Homo sapiens: one gene and its partners. The protein of the gene in region 4 purifies or fractionates together with the protein of the main gene of each other region. This does not show direct contact. Each region holds a gene or a part of one and is shown on either strand. Other genes may lie near its edges.

Region 1 (7,026 bases), on a different chromosome or scaffold from region 4:
TGTGCCTTCTCTAATGGGAACCAAATCCTGCCCCTTAGACAAGATGGCCCTTGGCTGGGCCTCACAGGGAACAAGGTTGGAGCATTCCAGGAGGTCTTTGTGCAGGGTTGTGGATGGCTGAGGGTGCTGGGGGGTCTGGGCTCAGACAGTGTTGGTCAGAGGGAGTGGCCTGAAGTATGGGTGAGAGGCCCTGGATGTGGCCTCTGATGGCTGCACCCCTGGTGCACACCCCTGCCAGCGTGTGTGACTCCCCCGGTCTTCCCCAGGGCGAGCCTGGAGCTGACGGGGAGGCGGGGAGACCAGGGAGCTCGGGACCATCTGGAGACGAGGTGAGGAGCTTCACAGCCCCCACACATGCCAGGTATGGGCCCAGGGAGGGTCAAGGAGATGGAGCGACCATTCAACCCTTGTTCCCCACAGGGCCAGCCGGGAGAGCCTGGGCCCCCCGGAGAGAAAGGAGAGGCGGGCGACGAGGTGAGTGAGGGCTCCTGACACCTTCCTGGGGAAGTGCATGGCCTCAGCTTCTGATCCTCTTTGCTCGGGGTCTACTCCACGTCCCTGAGACCAAATGCAGTGTGTCCACCAGACTAACGCCGGCGTCTGTTTCTCTTCATCCCAGGGGAACCCAGGACCTGACGGTGCCCCCGGGGAGCGGGTGAGTGGGGCAGGGGCAGCCTGCGCTGTTGGCCTCACCATGTAGCTGTGGACGTGGCCTCTGCGGCCCAGTCTGGCCCTCCCAGCACTGAGAGCCATGGCCTCCTGCCCAAGACAAATGGGTTTCTTCACCCACACGTCCAGGATGCCTCTTCCCACAGTCTCAGAGCGGGTGGGACCTGGGGAACCAGGAGATTCCGGCCTCTGCAACCGTGGGGCATGCGGTGGAGGGGTGGCCCCTCCCAGGGGTCCTGCTGGGGGAGTCAGTCCAGGCCAGGCCTCAAGCCCCACCCCAGCTGGGTGTGAGTTCCAGCAGCTGAGGCTTCTCCCCTCCATGTCTCTCCACTCAGGGTGGCCCTGGAGAGAGAGGACCACGGGGGACCCCAGGCACGCGGGGACCAAGAGGAGACCCTGTGAGTCACAGTTCCTGGAGCTGGGAACCACCCCAGGAAGGGGCAGGCGGAGGCTGGGGCTGGGTCAGGCCTCCAGAGCCACAGGACACATCATGAAGCCCCTGTGGCCCCTCAACGTGGCCAGCCCATCCCCACGCCGTCAGGGAGGGCAGCCCCTGAAGCCGGCGCCCAGCCATGTGCCTGATGCTGGGACCTGTTTCATGTGAAGGCGTTGCCCGTGGACCCGGTGCCCACTTTCCCACCAGGCGGCTTCCACGTTTCTGCATCCGAGCTTGGGTTCTTCTTTGGAATAATTTTCCTTAGTTAAAATTCCCAGCGTGAGGAAGTTGGGTCAGTACCCCAGACGGGAAGCTAGGCCTGCAGGGCGCCTGCCTGGGAAGGCTTGACATGGAAAACTCACCCCAGAGCCGAGATGCCGGCGGCCTCAGAGGCCACCCCCCACCTTCAGCTCCGTGGACCGTGGGCCTCGCTAGGCCACCCCACAGCCCAGCCTCAGGGTGCAGAAGCACAGGGCCCTTCTCTGTCCCTGTGACTTGCTGGGAAATCTGTGCTGGATGTGGGGCGGGGCAGCTGGCAGACTCCGGGCGTCTCAGTCCCATCCGGCTCAGGGAGAGCCAGGGCCTGGCGGGCAGAGTGAAGGGGAGAGAATGCCCTAGTGTGCCCAGCCGAGCTGCCAGGCCTCAGAGGCAGCGCCCCCGGGTGCCCCCTTGTCCGAGAATCAAGACATGCGACTGTCGTGTGCTGTGACAGACAGGCGGGGCTCCAGCAGGGCCAGAGAGCTGAGCCGGGGCCAGAGTCGCCGCCACCGAGGGATTTGGCTCCCCAGTGGGGGGTGGGGGATTTCTGACCTCCTCCCTGGGAGCTCCCCAGAAGCGCACAGCCCCCGTGGAGGGGTCGGGGGGACGTCAAAGCAGGGATCGTGTGACTTAGTGACTCAGACTGCCTTCTAGGCCCACTCCTCTGAGATCAGGATATGAGACTGACAGCCAGGCAGAGCCCAGAGGAAGGGCCAGCCACGCAGCTCCAGCTTCCCGGCGGGCCACAAGTCCATGGCTACAAACACTTGCCGGGTCCACGGAGCTTGCTGGAGAAGCAGGGATGCACGCAGGGACGCCTCTGGGGCCCCAGGAGGAGCTGCCGGCCTCCTGAATGAAGATAGCCATAGCCAGCCACGCCGATGGCCACGCACGTGGGCCGAGGAAACGCTTGGCGAGGCCAGGAAGGGGCTGTGCGGGGAGGGAAGGCCGGAACAGCCCAGTGACCACCTGGACAGCATGCTGTGGCTCCCAGCGTGCCCGGGCAGCCATCCTCCCCAAGGATGGCCCAGCTCCACACTCACGGCTCGTTTCTCTTCAGGGTGAAGCTGGCCCGCAGGGTGATCAGGGAAGAGAAGGCCCCGTTGGTGTCCCTGGAGACCCGGTAGGAAGCGCTGTGGGGTTGGGGGGCGTTGGCCAATTTGGGTTTTGGGGGTAGAAGTGCTCCAGCAGCTCACGCACTGGGGGTCTGTTCATTTCCGTTTGAGGGCCTCTGTGTTTCCGTAGATCTCGGGGGTGTCCCTGCGTGGGAGCCGGCTGCAGGGGGTGAGGCGCGGCCTGGGCCGGGCTGGTGTGGATTGTTGAGAGCAGGCCCAGCGCCCGGGGGCCTGACGCTGAGACGCTCAGCCCAGGTGGAGAAGCGCTGTCTGGGGGCCCATCCGGGGCAAGGGTGCCTCACAGTGAGGAAGAGGTGTTGGAGCCCCTGGGAGACACTGGGAGCTTGGTCAGCATCTGTTTTTCTGGGTCAGGAGCCAGGCATGACTGTGGCTGGAGGTCAACTGGGGAGTGTGAGGCTATGGAGGTTTCCAGAATCCCAGGGTGTCAGGATGAAAATGCACTTTCATCTCATTCTAAATTCCCTTCTCCGAGCCTCTGGAATCGCTGTGCACGCCGCACGGCTTTCTGTCTCTTCCCCCATTCTGATGACTGCCATGATGGTGGCTCCAGTGTGGTGTTGCCCGCAGGCTGGGCTGGGCCGTTGCATCCTCCCGGAGCTCACCTGCCCCACGGGGACAGGAAGGCCTCCACACGGTCACGCCCGGAGACAGCAAGTCTGTGCTCCCGAGCTTGTCTGCTTCTGTGGACAAATCGACCTTACGGCTCCATGTGCGCAGCTGCCCACACACCGAGCACAAGGCCAGACCCTGGGCACGGCAGCTGTCTCAGACGTCCAGCAAGATGGGGCCTCAGACCCAGGGAGATGGGAGAGGCCGTCCCAGTGCAAGTCACATTTGTATTTCTGTGCACGAGGTGAAATCGTGCTTTTGTGGTGCCAACGGGTGTTACACAGCTGTTAAAAATACCTGTGTCATAGATGAGGACCAGGGCAGGGCTTGGCAGGCGGGGTCTGGGCCGTTCGTCCACCTGGTCCTGCGTGCCGCTCACGGCAGGGGCAGAAAGGGCTCCCGACACCTTCCTGGGGAAGTGCACGGCCTCAGTCTCTGATCCTCTTTGCTCTTTGAGCTCCCGGGGCTCCAGCCCTGAGGATGATCTGACCTCCCATGTGGTCACCCAGGACAGGGCCAGGTGCAGGGCACAGTGCGTGGAAGAGGCCATGCAGCCAGTGGCAGATTGTGGGGAGGGGACGGCCCAGGGCCACGTTCCAGGCTTGGGAGGCTGCTCCAGACCTTGGTAGCTGAAAGTCTCAGTGGGAATGAGCGTTCAGAGGCCAGGACTTGCTCGGAGAATTCTAACCACACCCTGCCTGTTTTATATGTTCAGTTTTCAAAGTAATCAATAGCCACTATAAGAAAAAAACAAAGCCACTTTCAAAGGGTTGTGGTAAGAGGCAGTCCTGTGAGCAGGCCGGCTGCAGGGCCTCCAGGGCTGTGGGGCAGGCTGCACAGGGGCTGGTGGGTCCCATGCCTGGGGGTCTGGGAATAGTCTCTAGGCTGCTGTCCTGGAGGAGGTTTCCCCCAACGCCTGAGACCAGGGCACCATGTGACCCATGACTCACAGTTGCCTGGCTGAGGCAGGCACTTGTTCACCTGGAGCCTCCCTGGGGCCTTTCGGGGCCCGGGGGTGTGGATAGGTGGCTTTGGAGCCACATTTGTCCATCGGGACGTTGGGCTCCCAGCTGGCCTTCCGGGCTTTCCCTGCTCCCAGAACCTCCCTGCTCAGCCCTTGCCAGCCTTACCCCTCCCCTCCACCCTGCCCAGCATGGGGCTCTCCCTGTGTGGATGCCAGAAGCAGTTGGGCCCTCAGGGCTGGTCCCAGGAGGTGCCCCCAGTGAGGTGCTCTGCAGAAACTGCCCAGTCTGGCCTCCTGCTGTCTGTGGCACAGTCTGACTGTGTGTGGTGAGGTCCAGGCCTTCTGCCTCCCACTTACCTGGCCCAGGGCACAGAGACCTCCTTTCCATCCTTCCTCCTGGCCCCCTTTTCGTGTTCCCAAGGCAGGATCTCAGGGTACCAGACTAACCCCTGTTGAACCCCAAGTTTGGTGAGCTTCTGGACCTCCTTGAGGCCCGTGTGCAAAGTCCCCAGTCAAGTGTGCAGTCCTGACTGCTGGGGCGTTGACCACGAAGGGTGCAGGAGCTTCACAGCCAGGCCTGGGTGCTTGCACAGTCGGGGTAGAGAGAGCAATACACTAGATGCCTCCTGTCTGCCTGGTGGAGGCCACGGGGTCAGGATGGTGAATGGGCCAAGTCTGGTAGTGGGGAAGTTGTAAACATTTGAACCACCGGACAGGCCTCATCGGGAAGCATCAGCCTAACCACAGGCCAGGGACAGGCGTCTGAGCAGGCACAGGCCAGGGACAGGCGTCCGACCAGGCTCATGGCTGGGGCCAGGTGGGCCAGGTGGGCCAGGTGGGCCGGGCGATGTGTACACGGCTCCCTTCTTGGCTCAGCTGGGCGCGCTGGGAAGTGCTTGGGGTGCCTGGGCTAGACTCCGAAGGGCAGGGACTCGCCGCTGGAGTTGTCCACGGAGCAGGCCCTCAAAGGTGGGAGCTGGGGCCAGCTCTGGAAATAGACCCCCACAGGGTCCTCATGAGATGTGGGGGACCCAAGGAAGTCCAGCAGGCAGCCTCAGGTGCAGGTGGGGGCAGGGTGGTGTCCAGGCTCAGCCCACAGAGGGTCCTGCGGTTGGGGGTGGGCTAAGGGGACCAGGCCAGGCCCAAAGGGGACCATGAGGGAGGGCAGTCTGGGGCCACTCTGATAGGAGAAGGGGCAGGTGGTCTGCGGCCTGGGGACCTGTAGCCTCACCCCTCCGTGGGGACCTGAGGCACCAGCCGGGCACTCACCGAAGTCATCTGGGACAGGCTTCACCCTTCCGTGGGGGCCTGAGGCACCAGCCGGGCGCCCACCAAAGTCATCTGGGAGAGGCTTCACCCCTCCGTGGGGGCCTGAGGCACCAGCTGGGCGCCCACCGAAGGGCTTCAACACTTGTGCCCAGGCCCTTCGTGCAGGCCCTTCGTCAGACCCAAGAGTGGGCCTGGCTCTCCCCCTGCACTGATGGGACTGGGGCCAGAGCCTGGGGGCCCTGATGCCTCTTGGTCTGAGACCCTCAGCTTAGGGTCAGGGAGGGCTCAGGCTGGGTGAGGCCTGTGGTCCAACGTGCCATATCCATCTCTCTACAGGGCGAGGCTGGCCCTATCGGACCTAAAGGCTACCGAGGCGATGAGGGTCCCCCAGGGTCCGAGGTGAGTCCCACTCCCCACCCACACCCGCCCACCCAGGGGGGCCTGAGGATCCAGAACCCACTGTCTGCCCAGTGCTGGCCCCGTGCCCTCTGAGGACTCTATGGCCCTGGGTGTCCTGGCTCCCGATGGGACCTCTCCCGGCCCCAGGAGGGCCCTGCTTCCCTCCAAGGTCACCATGCTAAGCCTGCTCCCCTCACGCCTCCTCTTCCTCCTCAGGGTGCCAGAGGAGCCCCAGGACCTGCCGGACCCCCTGGAGACCCGGGGCTGATGGGTGAAAGGGTGAGTGTCCAACAGCTCGGGCCCTAGGGCGGAGGCCTGGCCGCCAGAGGCCCTGGGAAGCCCCAGCCCCGCACTGTGGAGCTGCCTGGGGTCCCTGACCGGGCCGGGAGTGCCCGCAGCATCACTGGCTCCTGGCCACAGTCGGCACCTGAGCCAGAGGCCGCCTCGGCAGGGCCCCTCCTGCCCCGAGATCCGGGTCCCAGGGTCCACGGGGACCAGCAGGGTGGCCCCAGGGGAGGGAGCCGGCTTCTGGGCTGACGGAGGGGCCCTGCGGGTGAGGTGCTCCCGGGCCTGTGCCAGCCAGTGGGTATCCCAGGCCAGGCCGATTCGCACGGTGACGGCTACTCTGCTCCCCCAGGGAGAAGACGGCCCCGCTGGAAATGGCACCGAGGGCTTCCCCGGCTTCCCCGTAAGTGTCCGGAGGCTGAGCCCACAGGAACATGCCCAAGCTGCCTGCGGCGCCCTCTTTAGTGGACTGGGCACTCTTGGGTGGGCGGGCTGGCCCCAGGACCGCCGGCTGGCCCAGGAATTCCATGGCCGGGATTCTGTCAGCTCAGGCCCTTCCGCTGTGCGCCCCTCACAGCCTCCCCTCTCAAATCAGAACCCGGTATCACTGCCCTGCTTTTCCATGACAGGGGTATCCGGGCAACAGGGGCGCTCCCGGGATAAACGTGAGTACGCCCCCTCCTCCATCTGGCTGTGGGCACACAAACATTCACAGTCACAGGGACACGCACGTGTGAACACACATGTGCACACAGGCTCCCGAGCAAACACACGGGGTACACAGGCACCCACGGCTGCCCCACTGTCTGTGGCCACAGCCCCAGTTGGCATCGGCTCCTGCAGGCCCTGCGAGGCTCCCACTGTGGTGTGGCCTGTGGGTCTCCTCACGGCCCTGACTGCCCGGTGACCGATCTCCCCTCGGTGCGCAGGGCAGGCCCAGCCCCAGAGGCCGCCCCACGGCTCTCTAGGCCACTCCGGGACCCAGTTTCTCCAGCCCAGGA
Region 2 (7,026 bases), on a different chromosome or scaffold from region 4:
TTCTTGTCCATTTCCATGAATAGAAATGGGAGGCTGGGCGCGGTGGCTTATGCCTGTAATCCCAGCACTTCGGGAGGCCGAGGCGGGCAGATCACGAGGTCAGGAGATCGAGACCATCCTGGCTAACACGGTGAAACCCCGTCTCTACTAAAAATATAAAAAGTTAGTCGGGCATGGTGGCAGGCGCCTGTAGTCCCAGCTACTCCGGAGGCTGAGGCAGGAGAATGGCGTGAACCTGGGAGGCAGAGCTTGCAGTGAGCCAAGATCACGCCACTGCACTTCAGCCTGGGCGACAGAGCGAGACTCCATCTCAAAAAACAAAACAAACAAACAAACAAAAAGAAATGGGGCTCCTGGCTGGGTGCAGTGGCTTACGCCTGTAATCCCAGCACTTTGGGAGGCCGAGGCGGGTGGATCACGAGGTCGAGAGTTCGAGACCAGCCTGACCAACATAGTGAAACCCCGTCTCTACTAAAAATTCAAAAATTAGCTGTGCGTAGTTGCACACGCCTGTAATCCCAGCTACTTGGGAGGCTGGGGTAGGAGAATTGCTTGAACCCAGGAGGCGGAGGTTGCAGTGAGCCAAGATCGTACCACTGCATTCTAGCCTGGGCGACAGGGCAAGACTCCGTCTCAAAAAAAAAAAAAAAAAAAAAGAGAAATAGAAATGGGGCTCCTCCATTCTCAACAAACCACCAATTAAAACATTTTTTTGTTCTCTCCTCTCTACCCTCCTTCCCCTTTCGCCTGTTCTTGGACTTAGAGGGACAACAGAAATGCGGCCTAATGCGTAGTTCACACTTATAATTCTAGCACTTTGGGAGGCTGAGGCAGGAGGATCGCTTGAGCCCAGGAGCTCAAGACCAGCCTGAGCAACACAGTAAGATCCCAACTCTACAATAAAAGATTAGCTGGGCAGGCTGGGCGCAGTGGCTCATGCCTGTAATCCCAGCACTTTAGGAGGCCAAGGTGGGCGGATCATGAGGTCAAGAGATTGAGACCATCCTGGCCAATGTGGTGAAACCCTGTCTCTATTAAAAATACAAAAATTAGCTGGGCATGGTGGTGCATGCCTGTAGTCTCAGCTACTTGGGAGGCTGAAGCAGGAGAATCGTTTGAACCCAGGAGGCGGAGGTTGCAGTGATCTGAGATAACACCACTGCACTCCATCCTGGCAACAGAGCAAGACTCCGCCTCAAAAAAAAAAAATTAGCTGGACATGGTGGTGAGTGCCTGTAGTCTCAGCTACTTGGGAGGCTAAGGCAGGAGGATTGCCTGAGCCTTAGGAGGTTGAGGCTTCAATGAGCCATGATCATGCCACTGCACCACTCCAGCCTGGCCAACAGAGTGAGACCTCGTCTGCAGAAAAAAAAGAAAGAACCATTAGGTTGTGATTTTCATTTTCTTTTTACTAGATGATGTCTTAGGCCCTGCTTGATATTTTATGATTAGGGTTGGCTTTAGCTTGAAAGGTTACTTACTCACGCCAGACTTTCCATCTATCTAATCCCTGTGCTGGGGTCCAAGACTTACAGATGCTTTCTGACCTTTAAAAAAGTCTTTTTTGGCCAGGTGCGGTGGCTCATGCCTGTAATCCCAGCACTTTGGGAGGCCGAGGCAGGGAGATCACGAGGTCAGGAGATTGAGAACATCCTGGCTAACATGATGAAACCCTGCCTCTACTAAAAATACAAAAAAATTAGCTGGGGGTGGTAGCGGACGCCTGTAGTCCCAGCTACTCCGGAGGCTGAGGCAGGAGAATGGCATGAACCCGGGAGGCGGAGCTTACAGTGAGCTGAGATCAGGCCACTGCACTCCAGCCTGGGCAACAGAGCGAGACTCTGTCTCAAAAAAAAAAAAAAGGCTTTTTTGTTTTGTTTTGTTTTTAATAAAAATGTACGACTAGAAAGGCCGGGCGTGGCAGCTCATATCTGTAATCCCAGCACTTTGGGAGGCTGAGGCAGGCGGATCACGAGGTCAGGAGATCAAGACCATCCTGGCTAACACCGTGAAACCCCATCTCTTAAAAAAAAAGAAAATACAAAAAATTAGCCGGGCGTGGTGGCGGGCGCCTGTAGTCTCAGCTGCTCGGGAGGCTGAGGCAGTAGAATGGCGTGAACCCGGAAGGCAGAGCTTGCAGTGAGCTGAGATCGCGCCCCTACACTCCAGTCCAGGTGACAGAGCAAGACTCTGTCTCAAAAAACAAACAAACAAAAAATTTACGACTAGAGCACTTACTTTGCTCTGTACTACATCCAAAGGCCAAAAATAGAAATATGCTACTCTGGGCACATTTCCTGTGGGGTAGCCCTGCTCCTCAAGGAGCAGTAGAAAACGAAATAGGCCCTGTCAGGAAGGTATTTGCATTCTAATAGAGGAGATAAGACCTGCTAGGATATCCCTAATATACAGTATTTGATCAAAGTCTTAGTAATTATTCTTTGAAATGTCTCTTTCCTTTCTATTTCCACTTCAGCCCAGTGGGTATTTTAATTACACAGTGTGCCACAATGCTTCAGGCTGTTCCCAACTACAGTATCAGACACCAGCAAAAGGTGACTTGAATGTGAGGCTGCACATCAGCATACTGTGGTCTTACGGCTCTAACGTATCCTGCAGTATGACTGATTCCTACCCACAGATGCTTTTCTTTTCTTTTCTTTTCTTTTTTTTTTTGTGAGACGGAGTTTCACTCTGTTGCCAGGCTGGGGTGTAGTGGCGTGATCTTGGCTCACTGCAACCTCCGCCTCCTGGGTTCAAGCGATTCTCCTGCCTCAGCCTCCCAAGTAGCTGGCACTACAGGCATGCACCGCCACGCCCAGCTAATTTTTGTATTTTTGGTAGAGACGGGGTTTCACCATGTTGGCCAGGATGGTCTCGATCTCTTGACCTCGTGATCTGCCTGCCTGAGCCTCCCAAAGTGTTGGGATTACAGGCGCGAGCCACCGCACCTGGCTTTACAGATGCTTTTCATCACAGTCCTCCCTTCCCAGTGTTCTCCAAAGTATGACTGCATTTTTCAAAATCTCTTTAAATTTCCTCTTGTTTGAAATATGATTTGGAATGCAGCGATTCCCCCCCACACACAAAAGAAATATGAGAGAATGACAACTCTAATGATATTCTACAAAGAGAGAAAGTTTATAATCAGGGCATTAAGCAAACTCACAAATTACAATTCTCTCACAGAATTTTAAGTAGAAGGTACAGATTTGGAGCATTTTTTTCCACCGATGTATTTACGGGAAATTTTGTTTATTCTCATCAGACATTTAGTAAACGGAACAACCCAATGAATTGGTCCTAATGAATATACCTTGAGAATGGCTATTTTATCCCCAGCTTCATTAGGGAGGCTCTGTTGATTCCAAATCTTTTTAAGTGCTTTTCCTGACACTTTCCCCCTCCCCCATATTCTCCATTTAGTTGAGCAACTTGCATCTTAAGGAAGAGAAAATCAAACCAGATACCAATGGTAAGTAACTAATAGCTAGTTTGAAAACAAATGTGATTTCCTTCAGTATTTTTGTTTTGGCATAACAACTGTCTGGAAAAAAATTTGTATTTGTACCAGGCAGGGCATTGGCAGATACTGGTACCATTTGATTTGTAAATCAACAAACTGGATTGTATGACCAAAGTGTTTTTATTTATTTTTTTGTTTCTGTTTACTTTTTAAGAGACAGGGTCTTGCTCTGTTGCCCAGGCTGGAGTGCAGTGGTTCAATCATGGTTCACTGGAGCCTCAACCTCCCAGACTCAAGTGATCCTCCACCTCAGCCTCCTGAGTAGCTGGGACTACAGGCACAACCCACTACGCCCAACTAATTTTTATTTTTTATTTTTTATTTTTTTGAGACAGAGTCTCGCTCTGTTGCCCAGGCTGGAGTGCAGTGGCTCGATCTCGGCTCACTGTAAGCTCCACCTCCCGGCTTCACACCATTCTCCTGCCTCAGCCTCCCGGGTAGCTGGGACTACAGGCACCTGCCACCACGCCTGGCTAATGTTTTGTATTTTTAGTAGAGATGGGGTTTCACTGTGTTAGCCAGGATGGTCTCAATCTCCTGACCTCATGATCCACCGGCCTTGGCCTCCCAAAGTGCTGGGATTATAGGTGTGAGCCACTGTGCCCAGGTATTTTTGTTTTTTTATAGAGATGAGGACTCCCTGTGTTGCCCAGGTTGGTTTCTAACTCCTAGGCTCAAGCAGTCCTCCCGCCTCAGCCTCCCAAAGTGCTGGGATTACAGGAGTGAGATATTACACCTGGTTTCAAAGTGTTTTTAATACAAGAATGAGGATTGCACACTGATAGCAAGGGTGTGGGGGGAACAAAGAATGAGGCTACTTAAGTGGGACTAATTACTAACCATCGGACTACATTGACAAAGACTAATTTTTTTCTTAATGTTCTCAATTTGGGATGAGATAGACAAAGTATGAGCAATCTGACAGTTTACCTATCCTAATTATTCTGAAATCATATTTATCCAAAGTTAAGATTTCCATTAAATTATTGTTGATGTACTTAATATTACAGGAAGGAAATGTAACATTTGCCTTTCTCAAAATTCACTTAAATCTTTTTTGTATGATTTTATATAACCACAGTATCATTCGACTATAAATTTATATTAATCAATTTATAGGCCGGGTGTGGTGGCTCACACCTGTAATCCCAGCACTTTGGGAAGCCAAGGCTGGCGGATAACCTGAGGTCAGGAGTTTGAAACCAGCCTGACTAACATGGTGAAACCCCATCTCTACTAAAAATACAAACATTTGCCAGGTGTGGTGGTGCACCCCTGTAATCCCAGCTACTCAGGATACTGAAACAGTGGAATCTCTTGAACCTGGGAGGCAGAGGTTGCAGTGAGCTGAGATCGCACCACTGCACTCCAGGCTGGGTAAGAGTGAGACTGCATCTCAAAAAAAGAAAAAAAAAATTTATATGCATGAATTTTTTTTGTTGGTCTTACTGCTCATTTGTTATATACATGAATTTTAATGGCATTATTGTGTTCACCTATTGATAAAATACGATTTGCATAGATATTCCTCTGTTGAGCATCAAGGTGGTTTCTGATCACTAATTGCTCTAATCTTTCTATAATATTTAAGAAGTATTGATTCAATGAGGGAAATAACAGGTTTTGAGGTACGGAGAGGAGACCTAGAATAGGAAAGAATATGAGCAACAGAGGCCGGGCGCGGTAGCTCACGCCTGTAATCCCAGCACTTTGGGAGGCCAAGGCAGGCGGATCACGAGGTCAAGAGATCAAGACCAGCCTGGCTAACATGGTGAAACCCTGTCTCTACTAAAAATACAAAAAAAATTAGCTGGGCGTGGTGGCGGGTGCCTGTAATCCCAGCTACTCGGGAGGCTGAGGCAAGAGAATGGCGTGAACCTGGGAGGCAGAGCTTGTAGTGAGTTGAGATCGCACCACTGCACTCCAGCCTGGGCGACAGAGCGAGACTCCATCTCAAAAATAAATAAATAATAAAATAAATATCTATCTATATATATATATATGTGAGCAACAGTGTTTTACACCTTTGTTTATTTAGGGACAATAAAATGTTTTTATCAGCGGCTCGGTTTCCTCATTTATTTTTTGCTCCCCAGGCCTTTACAAAAACTTCTAGTGTCATAGAATTTGAATTGTCTCAACTGTTGGGTATGGGATGCGATTTTGAATGATGGCCACTTTGTGTCTATAAAGGTGCTGTTGTCAAGACCAATGCCAATGCAGAGAAGACAGATGAAGAAGAGAAAGGTAACACAGCCGTGGAGCTTTATATAATAACAAGCTTCTACATTCTAAGAAAGTGGATTGTTATGAGGCTTCATTTTTATACCCAGTTTGGCTTGACTTTAATAGGCGATACAGTGCTAGCATAAAGGTTCAATATAGGGGCCGGGCACGGTGGCTTACACCTGTAATCCCAGCACTTTGGGAGGCCGAGGTGGGCAGATCACGAGGTCAGGAGATCGAGACCATCCTGGCTAACACGGTGAAAACCCGTCTCCACTAAAAATACAAAAAAAAAAAAAAAAATTAGCCGGGCATGGTGGCAGACGCCTGTAGTCCCAGCTACTTGGGATGCTGAGGCAGAAGAATGGCATGAACCCGGGAAGCAGAGCTTGCCATGAGCCGAGATCGAGCCACTGCACTCTAGCCTGGGCGAAAGAGCGAGACTCTGTCTCAAAAAAAAAAAAAAAAAAAAGTTCAATATAAATAGTCAGTAGGTGAAGGAGTTCTAATGGTTTACGTTTAGAGAAATTTTACATTTAACAACTGAACAGTTGAATAGGGCATTATAAAAAATTTTCAGTTGCATCTCTATTGTCCAGTAAAATTAAGCTTAATGTTATTTTGACACATTTGACATGGATGACGAGACCAACTTGTCCAATATTAAGGTACAGACTTTGTTAATTCCTGTTTTTTTTTTTATTGTTGTGATTGCTACATTAATTACTTTAGGTTTATATATAGTACAAATTGGGGAGTAAATATGTGGGTCTGGATAGGAGGAATAGATAACTGCAGGAAAAGAGGGCTGTTAGAATAGAGTCTGGAAAAGAATATGAGGCCTAAATGGGTGATGTATCATAACTTTTTTCTTTAATAAAACTATTTTAATTTATAAGTCAAAACTATGACGTACCTTGAATTTGAATGTTCAGTACATTATTATTTAAAATACAAATGGCAGTTGAATTAGAGTAAACGCCTGGTAGGTTTCAAGGACTTTTTAAAATTCTTTGCTTTCTTTTTCCTGACAGAGGACAGAGCTGCCCAGTCCTTACTCAACAAGCTGATCAGAAGCAACCTTGTTGATAACACAAACCAAGTGGAAGTCCTGCAGCGGGATCCAAACTCCCCTCTGTACTCGGTGAAGTCTTTTGAAGAGCTTCGGCTGTGAGTATTTATTCACCTTCTGACTCTTCCCCTTTGCACTGAAATAGAGATCCTAGGTCTGTTATAGATATCTTTTGACCACAACAGAGCAGTTTTAGCTAACC
Region 3 (6,991 bases), on a different chromosome or scaffold from region 4:
TGTTTTGTTTCTTTGTTTTTTTTTTTTTTTTTTTTTTGAGACAGTATCACTCTGTCGCCCAGGCTGGAGTGTAGTGGCGCAATCTCCGCTCACTGTAACCTCTGCCTCCTGGGTTCGAGTGATTCTCCTGTCTCAGCTTCCCGAATAGCTGGGATTACAGGCGCATCACCATGCCCAGCTAATTTTTATATATTTTTTTTAGTAGAGACGGGGTTTTGCCATGTTGGCCAGGCTGGTCTTGAACTCCCACCCTCAGGTGATCAACCCACCTCGGCCTCCCAGAGTTCTGGGATTACAGGCATAAGTCACCGCGCCCGGCCTGTCATGTTTTGTTAATGCATTGCCCTCCTGTATCCAGCATGACAGATTAAAAGAGCATAAGCCCCGTAGATCCGTATCCTCATCTGGCCTTCACTACTTCCTAGCAATGACACCATGGGCATGTGCGGTAACCTTGGCTGCAGAAGAGAGGTAAGAACACCAATCTCACAGCCCTGTTATGAGAATTAAATAAGATCATGGATGCAAAAGTGGCTGGCACATAGTAAGTGCCCAATAAATTGTCACTAGGGTGGCCAGATAAAATGTGAGGCACCCAGATTAACTTGAATTTCAGATAAACTTTTTTCTTAAGTATATCCCAAATATTACTTGGAGGTTCTGGGCACATTTCACCGATAACTGTTCATTGTGTTAGATGTGCTAGTGATACTGGGGATATGTTGATATAGTCCATCCTCCCTACTCTTGGATTCTGTATTTACAAACTCACCTAGTTGCTAAAACTTATTGGTAACATCACAATCAATACTTCACTGTCACAGTCATCTGCAGATGTGTGCATGCACAGAATACCAAAAAATTTGAGTCACACAGTGTGCACATTCCCAGCTGCAGGTGAACAAGGAGACTCTGCCTTCTTGTTTCAGCTCTCATACCATAAATAAGTATGCTTTTTTGAGCTCTAGTTTGTGCCATGTTTTTCACATTTTTGTGCTTTTTGTTGGTGATTTAACTGTTTAAAATGGCCCCAAGTGGAGTGCTGAAGTGCTGTCTGGTGTTCCCCACCCAAGAAATGTGCCTTATTGGAGAGAATAGGTGTGTTAGATAAGCCTCCTTTAGGCAGGAGTTATAGTGCTGTTGGCTGCGAGTTCAGTGTTGATGAATCAACATATGTAAGGTGTCTTTAAACAGAAACACATGAAGTGAGGTTATATATTGACCAGTTGATGAAAATGCTGTGACCAGAGACTCACAGACACCTAACCTTGTATCTTGTATTTCTCCTGGAAACATGGTTCAGTATTTACTAATTCAGTGTTTGTGGCAACTTTATAGAACAGAATTACCTCAAATAATGAGAATGAACTACACAGTTGATATATGTGTGTGTGTGTGTGTGTGTCTGCGTATATATATATATATATATGTAGATGCAGATGTATTGTAATAAAATTAAGTCCTTATCTATTAGAGATACCTACTGAAATATCATGGATGAAGTTATATCATGTCTGGGATTGTTTTAAAATACTCCAGCAAGGAGATAAAAGTGTGTATATCGAGAATGCAAAAGAAATGAGATACCAAAGGTTGAAGGTTGTAGAAGCGATTTTTTATTTTTGAGACAGAGTTTTTACTCTTGTTGCCTAGGCTGGAGGGCAATGGTGCAATCCCGACTCACCACAACCTCCACCTCCCCGGTTCAAGCAATTCTCTTGCCTCAGCCTCCAGGGTAGCTGGGATTATAGGCATGCACCACCATGTCCAGCTAATTTTGTATTTTTAGTAGAGATGGGGTTTCTCCATGTTGGTCAGGCTGGTCTCGAACTCCCAACCTCAGGTGATCCACCCGCCTCAGCCTCCCAAAGTGCTGGGATTACAGGCATGAGCCACCGTGCCCGGCCAGAAGTGATGATTTATTGGACTGTTTTCTCTACTTTTGTGTTGTATGTTTGAAAATAACCATATCAAAGGGTTTAAAATGCACTTGAGAAAGTCTTGGGGAAAATTTCTTTCTTTTTTAAAATTTACAGATTTTTTTTCTTTTTTTAATTTCTTTTTTTATGTTTTTGGGAGGGGAATTTGAGATCCCATTATCAGCAAACCCCAAATCCTTCCACGAGCTGGGATGGGATTTAAGAGACCTGGCTCTAGTCTCAGCCCCACCTCAGACCTGCTCGGTTATCTCTGACAACTCACAGTGCCACTGGAACTGTTTTCTTATCAGTTAAATAAGGAAGTTTAACTGGACAACCTCTGAATCCCTTTCATTGTTAAAGCCCTCTAATTCTAAAACCAGTATTTCTTAAATTGGCATGTTCTGGTCGGATATTACAGCCTCTCTTCAGCTGTCTCTCCCCTGCCCAATCCATCCTGTTACCATATCCTGTGACTCTTGCCAATTTTCTCCCTTTCTTTTGCAACATTCTTACCACAAAGCTCTTTGATTTTGGTTTATCTAAAACCTGAACTCCCTAGCCTAGCAGTGAAGGTCCTTGCAGCAGAGGACCCACTGAATGCTGCGACATGATCTCACTCTACCAAGAGCAAGCCCACAGTGCAGTTCAAAAAGGGCCAGGCAGGATGCAGTGGCTCAAGCCTGTAATCCCAGCACTTTGGGAGGCCGAGGCGGGAGGATCGCTTGAGGTCAGGAGTTTGAGACCAGCCTGGCCAACGTGGTGAAACCCCGTTTCTACTAAAAATATAACAATCAGCCGGGCGTGGTGGCAGGCGCCTGTAATCCGAGCTACTCGGGAGGCTGAGGCAGGAGAATCACCTGAACCTGGGAGGCAGAGATTGCAGTGAGGTAAGTGAGCTGAGATGGTGCCACTGCATTCCAGCCTGGGCGACAGAGCCAGGCTCCGTCTCAAAAAATAAAAAGGGCCAGAAAAACAGGGACAACACATGCCATGCCAGACTACTGCAGAGCACAGAGGCAAGTCACCCAAGCAGGTCTGGGAAGGCAAGAAGTCTCCTGGAAGAGGTGATATTTGAGCTGAGACCTAAAGGCTGACCAGGAATTACTGCAGCTAACAGAGGGGAGGGAACATAGAGGCAACAGCATGCGTGAAGGAATGGAGGCAAGAACATTGGCAGAAGTCCAAAATTCAACATCCATCATCACATCTAGCACCATGAATCTCTCCAGCAGTATTTGCCACACTTCCTTGCCATCCTCCTTTGCCTCCTGCTTAGTCTGTGTGGTGGAACTCCTGTGATTCATATTTGGGAAAGTATATATTGGACTCCCCACAGGGCTCCTTTAAAATAACCAGGTCAGGAGAAACTTACACTTCCTATTGCACTCCAGTTTTGCTCATCTCCCGTAATTCTGATGGCCCATTTTTCAGTAAACTCAAGCTCAGAAAGGTTGTCAGTCATTCAAGCTCACGCAGCCAGTGAGGGGGGAAAATGGGGATGCAGAGCAGGTGGACCTGCCGCCTATTGTCCCTTAACTGCACAGGCAGTCTGGGCACACAGAGGCTTCTGGCCAGGTGTCTGCCAGAGAAAACGTCCTTGCAAGTTCCCCGCATGCTGCAGCGTACACAGGTGCGCTGCTGTGATCCTCTTTCTACATTGAGAAAGATGAGATCAGTTTCCTCAGGGCCATTTAATAAAGTCCTGTCGGTCGCCTCAAACATCCCATCCACCGAGGGCCGAAGATTCTAGGTCTCTCCCACCTCCCACGTGACTATGTGACATTTGACGGGTAACTGCATCTCATCTGTAAAATGCGTCTTGCAGGATCGTTCTGGCTTCCGTACAATCCTGCAGAGAGCAGCAAAGCGCGCACGCAGCCTCCGCCTCATACTCCGCAGTGGCAGAGCTGGCGCACAGAACACCCGCCAGCCGGCCGTGCGCAGGCGCACTCCGCCAAGTCCCGACGGGAGCTCTGCGGCTGCGCACTCGGCTGGCTTTGCGGCCGCACTGCTTGACGGCAGCGGTGTCCGCCCCACGGCCGGCGTTGCCGGGGTAACGGCGAGCGCGTGGGGCCAAGAAAGGTAAGGGCCCTGGGCGAGGAAAGCGCGGCCCTTTCCGAGTTTGGTGTTTTGCAGCGAAAGGAAATCTCGCTCTTCCGAAAGTCCTCCAGGGCGAGAGAGGAAAGGGCCTAGGTACTGTGCTGGGGTCGCACAGCCGGCCGAGACAGTGCCGGGACGGGGAGCCAGGCTTCCGAGTGCGCCCGGTCACTGACTCCTCCGCGCTTTCCTCGTGCGCCTGCAGCCCTTGGTTCTTGGAAACGCCGGCGCCTTGTTCAGGGCTGGTGGGGCTGGGGCGCAAGGTGCAGCTGACAATGCCCGAGAGGAGCCGCAGCCTCTGGTGGAGTTCGGTCGGGTGTGGGGGTAGTCAAGGAAAGAAGCAAAGGGGTAAGACAGGGAGTTAGGAATTGGCGGGGCCCCTAACGCTGTTGGGGTGCGCAGTTTATTTTATTTGCAGCTGTCGTCTGGTGAGCGCTTTCCACGTGGTAGGCCCCGAACGAAACGCCTTCTGCAAAATTATGCATTTAATCCTGACAACAACTTTCAAAGGCTGGTCATCTGTTTATATGGCTTATTCTCAGGTTCTAACTTGAAAGCTCCCCAGAGGCAGGATTGTTTACCTTGTGCCTTTCATCCTTGCCTCCCTAAGCCCAGGAGGTGCGCAGATGGAGCTTGAAGCGTGTTTTGGTTGGGAGAAGGTGAGATTTGCTGGGTAGGAGGTTTTTTAACCAGGTTTGTTTGGCACCTAGTCCAGGAAGGTTGGAAAATTAAATGGAGCCACCTCTCCCTTTTTTGTTTTTCTAATAGACATTTACCATCACCTAAGAGGTGTTAGCCTGTGTGCTCGAGGGAAGAATAAGAAACAGACTCTGCTTTTAATAGAAAGTAAGAATATGCAGCTCTGGAGTCAGGTTGCGCAGGTTGGGGAAATAAGAAGTAAAGATTTCTCAGGGGTGCGCCCGGCCCCTCCGAGTCACTTTCCACATCTGTACAATGGAAATAAAAATAGTCTTTACCTCCGGGGGCTACTGGGATTAAGTGAATTTGAATAGACCTTGCTGTTACCAGTGGTTAGCTATATGTTAAAATCAGCTGGGTCCACCCAGGAAATTCTGATGTAATTGATTGCAGGTGAGGCCTGGGCATGAGGAGTTAAGGGTAGGTAAGCTTGAGGGCCACTGTGTGATGTACCACTCCCAGGTTTAATTTTCTTAATCTGCATTTTTCAATCATCATTCTAAATAACCTGCAGTGACTCCAATTCCAAACCAACCTTTGCATCCCAAACCTCTTGACAACTGACCCAGTCTTTCCTATATGTTTTTGTGCACCTCAGGCACCGCTCTTCTTTCATATCTGTGGAATGAGGATAGTACAGTCAGCTCTCGCTATCAGGTTCCGAATCTGTGGATTCAACCAATGTTGCATCAAAAATATTTGGAAAAAGAAATTTAAAAATATATATATATAACAATTATTTAGTATTTACATTGTATTAGGTATTCTAAGTAATCTAGAGAAGACTTAAAGTAGATGGGAGGATGGGCATAAGTTACATGCAAATACTACATTTTATTTAAGGGACTTGAGCTGCGGATTTTGGTAGGGGGTGAGTCCTGGAACCAGTCCTTCTGTGGATACCAAGGGATGACTATAGTACCCACATGTGCAGCACATGCAGTGAGTGCCTCTGGCATCTGGTACCTACCTATGACAGTTTCCTCTTCTTATTTTACTCACATCCCACCTCTTACAGCATGCTGTTCTGCCGCGACACTAAAGAACCTTCTTGAATATCCATTGCAGATATGGGGAATGGTAAATGCAGTCTTTTCTCCTCTGCTTTGCCTTTCGAGTTCAGCACAGGAGGACTCTTCCATGAAACTAGAGATCATCTGATTTGTCCTCTTGAATTTTTCCCCCTGGGGAAGTGAGCTCTACCTTCCCTGAGGGTTTCTTTCTATCTTTTCTAGAAGCTTCACGCTGGTATCTGTGAAGTCATTCTTGCAGGACATGGCCTGGGGAATGTCTTTACTTCTGAATTTTTTAAAATAGCTTTATTGAGATACCATATAATTCTGTAAAAGTCACCCTTCTGAAATGTACGAGTCAGTGGTCTTCGTATTCGCGGAGTTATGTAACCATTACCATCACTACAATCTAATTTTAAAACATTTTCGTCACCCTCCAAAATAAACCTCCTGTCTTATTAGCAGTCGCCCCCCCATTTCCCACTTTTCCCTGTCTCTGGCAACTGGTAATCTGTCTCTATGGATTTGTCTATTCCGGAAACTTTATCTTAATTGTCTCGTGGTCTTTTGTGTCTGACTTCTTTTAGCATAATGCTTTCAGGTGTTGAAGAATGTATCCGAACTTCATTCCTTTTCTATGGCTAAGTATTTGATTATATGGATAGACCACATTTTGTTGATCTGGTCAACTATTGATGGACATTTGGATGGCTTCCACTTTGATGCTATTATGAATAATACTGTTGTGAACATTCACATACAAATTTTTCCATGAACATATGTTTTCATTTCTCTTAGGTCTATACCTAGGGGTGGAGTTGCTGGATCATGTCGTAACTATGTGTTTGACATTTTGAGGAACTGCCAGACTCCTCCAGTCCTGTTCGATTTGAAGATGAAACTGGGCTTAGAGAAAGTGGGTTGTGCAAGGTCACACAATAATAATGGCGGCTTTGCATGTCTGGAAGGCCTACTGCGAGCCAAATTCCTGAGGGGTGTGCAGCCACATGAGCAAGAGTAACACAAGAACTTGGATTATGAGGGGTGTTTTGTCGCAGGGACCCTTCCATCCCACACACCTGGGTTGGAGTACAGAGTTCTTTCGATCAAGTGTCACAGCTAAATCTTGCCTTTTTTAGATGTGACAGCAGTCTGAGAGGGAAAAACGCTGAACAAATGAGGCAGACTAAAATACAACTCTTATTTGTTGAGAGAATTTATTAGAACTTCTTGAAGGTGGCCATTAAATCTTTTTTCATT
Region 4 (6,624 bases):
TTACAAGCATGTGCCACCATGCCCAGCTATTTTTGATTATTTTTAGTAGAGATGGGGTTTCACCACGTTGGCCAGCCTGGTTTCAAACTCCTGGGCTCAAACGATCCTTCTACTTCAGCTTCCCAATGTGCTGGGATTACAGGTGTGAACCACCATGCCTGGCTGAAATTTTCATGTCTTGTTCACTACTGCATCCCCAGAATCTAGCACACAGTAGGTGCTCAATAAATGTTTGTTGAATGAATGGATGAGTTAAAGGAGTGTTCACAAGCAACACACATTCACAGAAACTTCAGAAGGACACATAATGTGTGCACACAAACACATCCTGCTCAGCACATGACATTTCTTTGTTCATTCATGGTCAACCTTCATGGTCAAAAACCTTTATCCACTGACTTCCAACATTTTTGCAGGGACACTAACCCAATGCTACATTTCCCCTTCTCACATTTATTAAGATCCTGTTTTATTCAACTGCAAACACATTGCTTGGGACACACAATCCTCCCCCAGATTCTGAACGTATACACACACACACACACACACACACACACACACACACACACAACCACTCCACCAAGAAACACACATAAACATAACCTCATACAACAAAAACACACATACATGCTCAACACACACACAGCCACACAAACAAAAGACACAGGTGCCTGGGAACACACACAGGCTATAGGCCACACAAACACACCTTCCTCACACACATACACACACACACACACACACACACTCCCCACATATATAGATACAGAGCTTAAGCCACAAGCTGAACATAAAAACAAACACAAGGATATATACACACCAGCCCCAAGTCGGCCAGCCTTTGGTCAGCTGGAGTGTGGGCAGGACGGTGGGAGGTCCCGCCCCTGCATTAAGCCACGCCCCTTTCAGCAGCCAGTTTCCTGGACTGGATCCTGAGGTGTCTTAGCGGCCTCTAGACCCCAATCCAGCCAACAGGTGAGGGGCTGAATGCGGGGAGGCGGGAAGGGGACAGTCTTGTCTCCACAGACCGCTAGCTGTCCCTGCCTCGGGGCTTTGGGCCCCAGTGACAGAACCTGAGCCCTGCCACACCAGCCTTGGTCCCAAAGGTCCAGCTCTGGGTGGCCCCTAAGCCGATTGTGGGCCGAGAGAAGGTGACCCAGAGAAGGGCCGGCAGGGAGCGAGAGAGGGAGGAGGGAGGCCGCATAGAAGAGAGGGAGGAATTACTGAACAGGAGAGGGGGATTGGAAGACCTAGGGAGGTCCCCTTCATTCTGAGAAAAGAAGGGGTCTCTTGAAGACTAAAAAGGTGGGAGATCCTGCTGGATGGGAGGAGGGCCACTGTGGTCTAAGCTTGGTTGGGGTGGCACTGAAGGGACATAGAGGACATGGTTCTGATGGGAGGGGGGCTCCTAGGTTGGAGGCAGGCCCTGATGGTCTCCTGGGATTTGAACGTCCTTGGCCACTGCCCCAGCCTCCTCCTCAGCTGCACTTTCCCTACTCTGCCTGGCACTGCTTCTTGGGTATGCACTGGGTGGGTGCCACCCTAAGCTCACAGAAAGGGATGGCTGAACCCCACCCTATGCCTGCCAGCTCTTATCTCAGGTGGACATGGACTGCAGGGTCCACATGCGACCCATCGGCCTGACGTGGGTGCTGCAACTGACCTTGGCATGGATCCTGCTAGAAGCCTGTGGAGGGAGCCGCCCACTCCAAGCCAGGTCCCAGCAACACCATGGGCTGGCAGCTGATCTGGGCAAAGGCAAGCTGCACCTGGCAGGTGAGCACCCCAGACCCTGCCTCACCACCAACACCCAGAAACCCACACCTACCCTGCCATGACAATGTTAGAATTTCCTTATGAGAGGGGCCTAGCATGGCCACCAAGGTGGGAGGCACGGATAGTGCTGAAGAATGGTGGATAAGAATTAGACTGCCTGGGTTCAAATCCCAACTCTGCCACTTTGTAGCTGTGTGATCCTGAGGAAGTCATTTAACCTCTCTGGGTCTCACATGGACCCCCAAAAAGAGAGAAATAACAAATATACCTCGCAGAGCTGTTGTTAAGATTAAGCATATAAGCATATGAGCAGGGCTCGGTGGCTCACGCCTATAATCCCAGCACTTTGGGAGGCTGCAGTGGGCAGATCATTTGAGGTCAGGAGTTTGAGACCAGCCTGGCCAGCATGGTGAAACCCCTGTCTCTACTAATAATACAAAAATTAGCTGGACGAGGTGGCATGCGCCTGAAATCCCAGCTACTTGGGAGGCTTAGGCACGAGAATTGTTTGAACCTGGGAGGTGGAGGTTGCAGTGAGCCAAGATCACGCCACTGCACTCCAGCCTGGGTGACAGAGTGAGGCCCTGTCTCAAAAGAAAAAAAGAAAAAAAAAAAAGGAAAAGGATTAAGTATATGTGTCACTACCAGGCACATGACAAGTAAGTTGATTATTATAAACAAGAAATGATTATTACTACTTGAAGCTGCATTTGCATTCCAAAGGAAGGGTCTTAAGTTATGGGTTTGTGAGGATTGATGTAATTGTTGTCTCCCCTGTCCAGGGGATCCCCAGGCCTCAGTTCCCAAACCTTACCTGAATATCCAAGACCCTAGCTCACAGGGTTCCCCTTTGCCAGGACCTTGTTGTCCCTCAGAGATGGACACAACAGAGACATCGGGCCCTGGAAACCATCCAGAACGCTGTGGAGTGCCGAGCCCTGAGTGAGTACAGCACCCTCCACCGTTTTCTCGCGTACTTTGCCCATTGCCCAGGAACTCCCTCGGGTCCTGACCCATCCGACCCTATCTCTCCCAACGTCCAGATGCGAATCCTTCCTGGAACACCTCCAACGTGCCCTTCGCAGTCGCTTCCGCCTGCGGCTATTGGGGGTACGCCAGGCACAGCCGCTCTGCGAGGAGCTCTGCCAGGCCTGGTAGGAGACGCGGGGGCAAGGGGCGTGGGTTGTGACTTGGGCGGGGAAGAGGGCGGAGCCTGCAGTTTGCTTGGCCTTCTGTGTAAAGGGGAGTGGCCTCCAACAGGGCCAAGGTTTAAGAGATGCAGCTTAATGTTTAGAGCCCAGGTAGATAGGGGCGAGGCATGAGAAGCCCCCAGCTTTTAAGATACCTGCCATATGGCAATGTGGCTTTTCATAGCCCTGCGATTTCTTTTCTTTTCTTTCTTTCTTTTTTTTTTTGAGATGGAGTCTCACTGTGTCACCTAGGCTGGAGTGCAGTGGTGCAATCTCGGCTCACTGCAACCTCCACTTCCCGGGTTCAAGCGATTCTCCTGCCTCACCCTCCTGAGTAGCTGTGGTTACAGGCGCACACCACCATGCCCGGCTAATTTTTGTATTTTTAGTAGAGACGAGGTTTCACTATGTTGGTCAGGCTGGTCTCAGACTCCTGACCTCGTGATCCGCCCGCCTCGGCCTCCCAAAGTGCTGGGATTACAGGCGTGAGCCACCGTGCCCGGCCTTTTTTTCTTTTTTTTTTTTTTGAGATGGAGTTTTGCTCTTGTCGCCCAGGCTGGAGTGCAGTGACACGATCTCAGCTCACTGCAACCTCAGCCTCCTGGGTTCAAGTGATTCTCCCGCCTCAGCATCCCTAGTAGCTGAGATTACATGCTTCCGCCACCACGCCCGGCTAAATTTTGTATTTTTAGTAGAGACGGTGTTTCACCGTGTTGGCCAAGCTGGTCTCAAACTCCTGACCTAGGTGGTCCGCCTGCCTTGGCCTCTCGAAGTGCTGGGATTACAGGGGTGAGCCACCATGCCCAGCCAGGCCCTGAGATTTCTTAAGGAGTGAGTCCTCTTGATTGAAAAGATAAGGTAAAAGGGTGGGTGCCTGTAATCTCAGTCGTTTGAGAGGTCAAGGCAGGAGGATTGGTTGAGGCCAGGAGTTCAAGATCAGCCTGGGGAACATGGCAAGACCCAGTCTCAACAAAAAATTTAAAAATTAATTAGACATGGGCCGGACGTAGTGGCTCATGCTTGTAATCCCAGCACTTTGGGAGGCCAAGGTGGGCAGATCCCCTGAGGTCAGGAGTTTGAGACAAGCTTGGCCAACGTGGTGAAACACCGTCTCTACTAAAAACACAAAAATGAGCCAGGCGTGGTGGTGGGCGCCTGTAATCCCAGCTACTCGGGAGGCTGAGGCAGGAGAATTGTTTGAACCTGGGAGGCAGAGGTTGCAGGAAGCAGAGATTGGGCCACTGCACTCCAGCCTGGGTAACAGAGCAGGACTCCATCTCAAAAAAAAAAAAAAAAAAAATTAATCGGACATGATGGTGCGCACCTATAGTCCCAGGTACTTGAGACACTGAGGTGGAAGGATTGCTCCAGCTTGGGAGGTCAAAGCTGCCATAAGCCATGCTTACGCCACTGCACTCCAGCTTGAGTCACAGAGCAAGACCCTGACTCAAAAATAAATAAAAGGAAAACGAAAGAGTGGGAAAATATGAGGGACTGGCCTGTAACTAATGGTCTGAGGTCTGTAGGGACAAGGCCAGTTGTGACGTGGCCCAGAGTATGGAAAGATCTGATAGAATATGGGGCAGGGTGAAATCTGGAGAGATGGGGTTAGTTAGCAGGGGAGTGGTTCTAAAAGGCGGGGCCTGGATCCGAGGTGGGGGCATATAGTGAACACAGTCTAGAAGAGCCAGAATCGCGCTGGAATGTAACTACAAAGGCTTTACCCACCTCTCCACTCGCCATCTCCAGGTTCGCCAACTGCGAAGATGATATCACCTGCGGCCCGACTTGGCTCCCACTCTCAGAAAAAAGGGGCTGTGAGCCCAGCTGCCTTACCTATGGACAGGTGAGCGTGGGGCAGAAGGTGAAGGGAAGAGACTGAGATCCTCCCCACCAAGTTATTTATTTATTTATTTATTTATTTCTGAGACGGAGTTTCATTCTTGTCACCCAGGCTGGAGTGCAGTGGCGCGATCTCAGCTCGATGCAACCTCCGCCTCCGGGGTTCAAGTGATTCTCCTGCCGCAACCTCCCGAATAGCTGGGATTTCAGGCGCATGCCACCATGCCCAGCTAATTTTTGTATTTTTAGTAGAGTCAGCGTTTCACCATGTTGGCCAGGCTGGTTTCGAACTCCTGACCTCAGGTGATCCGCCCACCTCGGCCTCCCAAAGTGTTGGGATTACAGGTGTGAGCCACCGCCCCCGGCCCCCACCAAGTTCTTTCTTACCGTGTCTAGACCCCAGAGACCGGATTGGTACTCCCCAGGTCCCTGCTCCCACCCTTCCCTAGCCCAACCTCCTACTGGGTTGTGCCCTTTGACCCCAAAAGCTCTCGAAGTCCAGATTTGCCCTTCCCAAGAAACCATTCCTGCTCTGGGTCCATCCACATTTTACCCTGGAGGACCCAGAAGCCCAGTCACTCTCTACAAAACCCCAGCCTTGATACAGACCTCTCTGCGCGCCCCCCAACTGCCCCAACCCTGATTCATCCCGCTAGGGCCCAGTAAGAACATTCACCCTCCCCAAGGACCTGCCCCCACTCACGTTCCGCACATAGACTCCCAGGCCGCACGCTCCGGCTCTGACCCCAATCCCTAAGGAATTTACACATTTTTCCCTTCCCGAGGCCACGCCCCCCACGTCTCTGGACTCCGCCCACTAGGGCCTTAACTCCACTTTTTCCTAGACCTTCGCAGACGGGACGGACCTTTGTCGCTCGGCTCTGGGCCACGCCCTACCGGTGGCTGCTCCTGGAGCCCGTCACTGCTTCAACATCTCCATCTCCGCGGTACCTCGTCCCAGACCAGGACGACGGGGCCGGGAAGCTCCCTCCCGGCGTTCCCGCAGCCCTCGCACCTCCATCCTGGACGCTGCGGGCAGCGGGAGTGGCAGTGGAAGCGGCAGCGGCCCCTAGCGGACGCGTGGCCCTGAGTTGGGGGAGCGACCCTTCCCCCAGCCCCGCCCCTCAGGACACCCAGAACCCCACCCCTCGTCCTCTCGGCCTTCTGTAATAGTTTTGAGATGTCTGTCCCTCCTCCCTGGAGCTCCAGAGACCCACCCCTCTCCAGGTTATCCCAGAAATGACCCAACTCTCTCACTTTTCCCTCTCCCCTTTGAATAAAGTCGCCAGCTAGAGCACGTGACGAGTGTGGCTGCTTCTTGGGGAAATAAGTCGGAAGGAGAATTGCCAGAAAGTAACGGATGTCTCACGTCTAATCCTCAGACCCTAGAAGTAGTGACTGACTCATACTAGAGTGTAAATGATAGATAGCCTGTGCCCTAGAGCAGTCAACATAACTGGGAATACCCAGTTGTTGGAAATGGAGAGGGGGTCAGAACAGGGGCTGACAAGGGCAGGAGGGGTTCCTTCCCACTGTGTGCCACCAGGGCTGCCAAGAAGCTGCCTAACTTGTATAGGCCTCAAGACACACTTCAAGGCCAGGTGCAGAGGCTCATGCCTGTAATCCCAGCAATTTGAGAGGCTGAGGTGGTTGGATTGCTTGAGCCCAGGAGTTCAAGACCAGGCTTCGCAATACGGTGAGAACCTGTCTCCACAAAAAAAAAAAGAGAGAGAGAGAAAGGAAGAAAAAAGAAAAAGAAAAAGAATATTTTTAATTGGCCCAGTGTAGTGACCCGTGCCTGTATTCCTACCTGCTC

What was found.
Region 1: the proteins of RTBDN (region 4) and COL6A1 purify together in Homo sapiens (affinity purification with mass spectrometry; 3 studies listed by BioGRID and IntAct, with this or other methods). This does not show direct contact.
Region 2: the proteins of RTBDN (region 4) and DDX19B purify together in Homo sapiens (affinity purification with mass spectrometry; 2 studies listed by BioGRID and IntAct, with this or other methods). This does not show direct contact.
Region 3: the proteins of RTBDN (region 4) and TSEN2 purify together in Homo sapiens (affinity purification with mass spectrometry; 3 studies listed by BioGRID and IntAct, with this or other methods). This does not show direct contact.

The regions. Positions count from the first base shown.
Region 1 is NC_000021.9:45,991,744-45,998,769, forward strand, and holds part of COL6A1 (collagen alpha-1(VI) chain precursor), read left to right. Parts: intron 1-266; coding exon 267-329; intron 330-420; coding exon 421-474; intron 475-619; coding exon 620-655; intron 656-1,004; coding exon 1,005-1,067; intron 1,068-2,423; coding exon 2,424-2,486; intron 2,487-5,677; coding exon 5,678-5,740; intron 5,741-5,956; coding exon 5,957-6,019; intron 6,020-6,377; coding exon 6,378-6,428; intron 6,429-6,654; coding exon 6,655-6,690; intron 6,691-7,026. UniProt on the Homo sapiens protein: Collagen VI acts as a cell-binding protein.
Region 2 is NC_000016.10:70,309,183-70,316,208, forward strand, and holds part of DDX19B (ATP-dependent RNA helicase DDX19B), read left to right. Parts: intron 1-3,426; coding exon 3,427-3,475; intron 3,476-5,719; coding exon 5,720-5,773; intron 5,774-6,457; exon of another isoform or gene 6,458-6,786; coding exon 6,787-6,922; exon of another isoform or gene 6,923-6,960; intron 6,961-7,026. UniProt on the Homo sapiens protein: ATP-dependent RNA helicase involved in mRNA export from the nucleus.
Region 3 is NC_000003.12:12,480,514-12,487,504, forward strand, and holds the start of TSEN2 (tRNA-splicing endonuclease subunit Sen2), read left to right. Parts: upstream 1-3,966; 5' UTR 3,967-4,367; exon of another isoform or gene 4,368-4,678; intron 4,679-6,991.
Region 4 is NC_000019.10:12,824,963-12,831,586, reverse strand, and holds the end of RTBDN (retbindin isoform 1 precursor), read left to right. Parts: intron 1-907; exon of another isoform or gene 908-975; intron 976-1,158; exon of another isoform or gene 1,159-1,305; intron 1,306-1,589; coding exon of another isoform or gene 1,590-1,607; coding exon 1,608-1,776; intron 1,777-2,633; coding exon 2,634-2,718; intron 2,719-2,819; coding exon 2,820-2,930; intron 2,931-4,694; exon of another isoform or gene 4,695-4,715; coding exon 4,716-4,812; intron 4,813-4,920; coding exon of another isoform or gene 4,921-4,980; exon of another isoform or gene 4,981-5,653; coding exon 5,654-5,881; 3' UTR 5,882-6,105; downstream 6,106-6,624.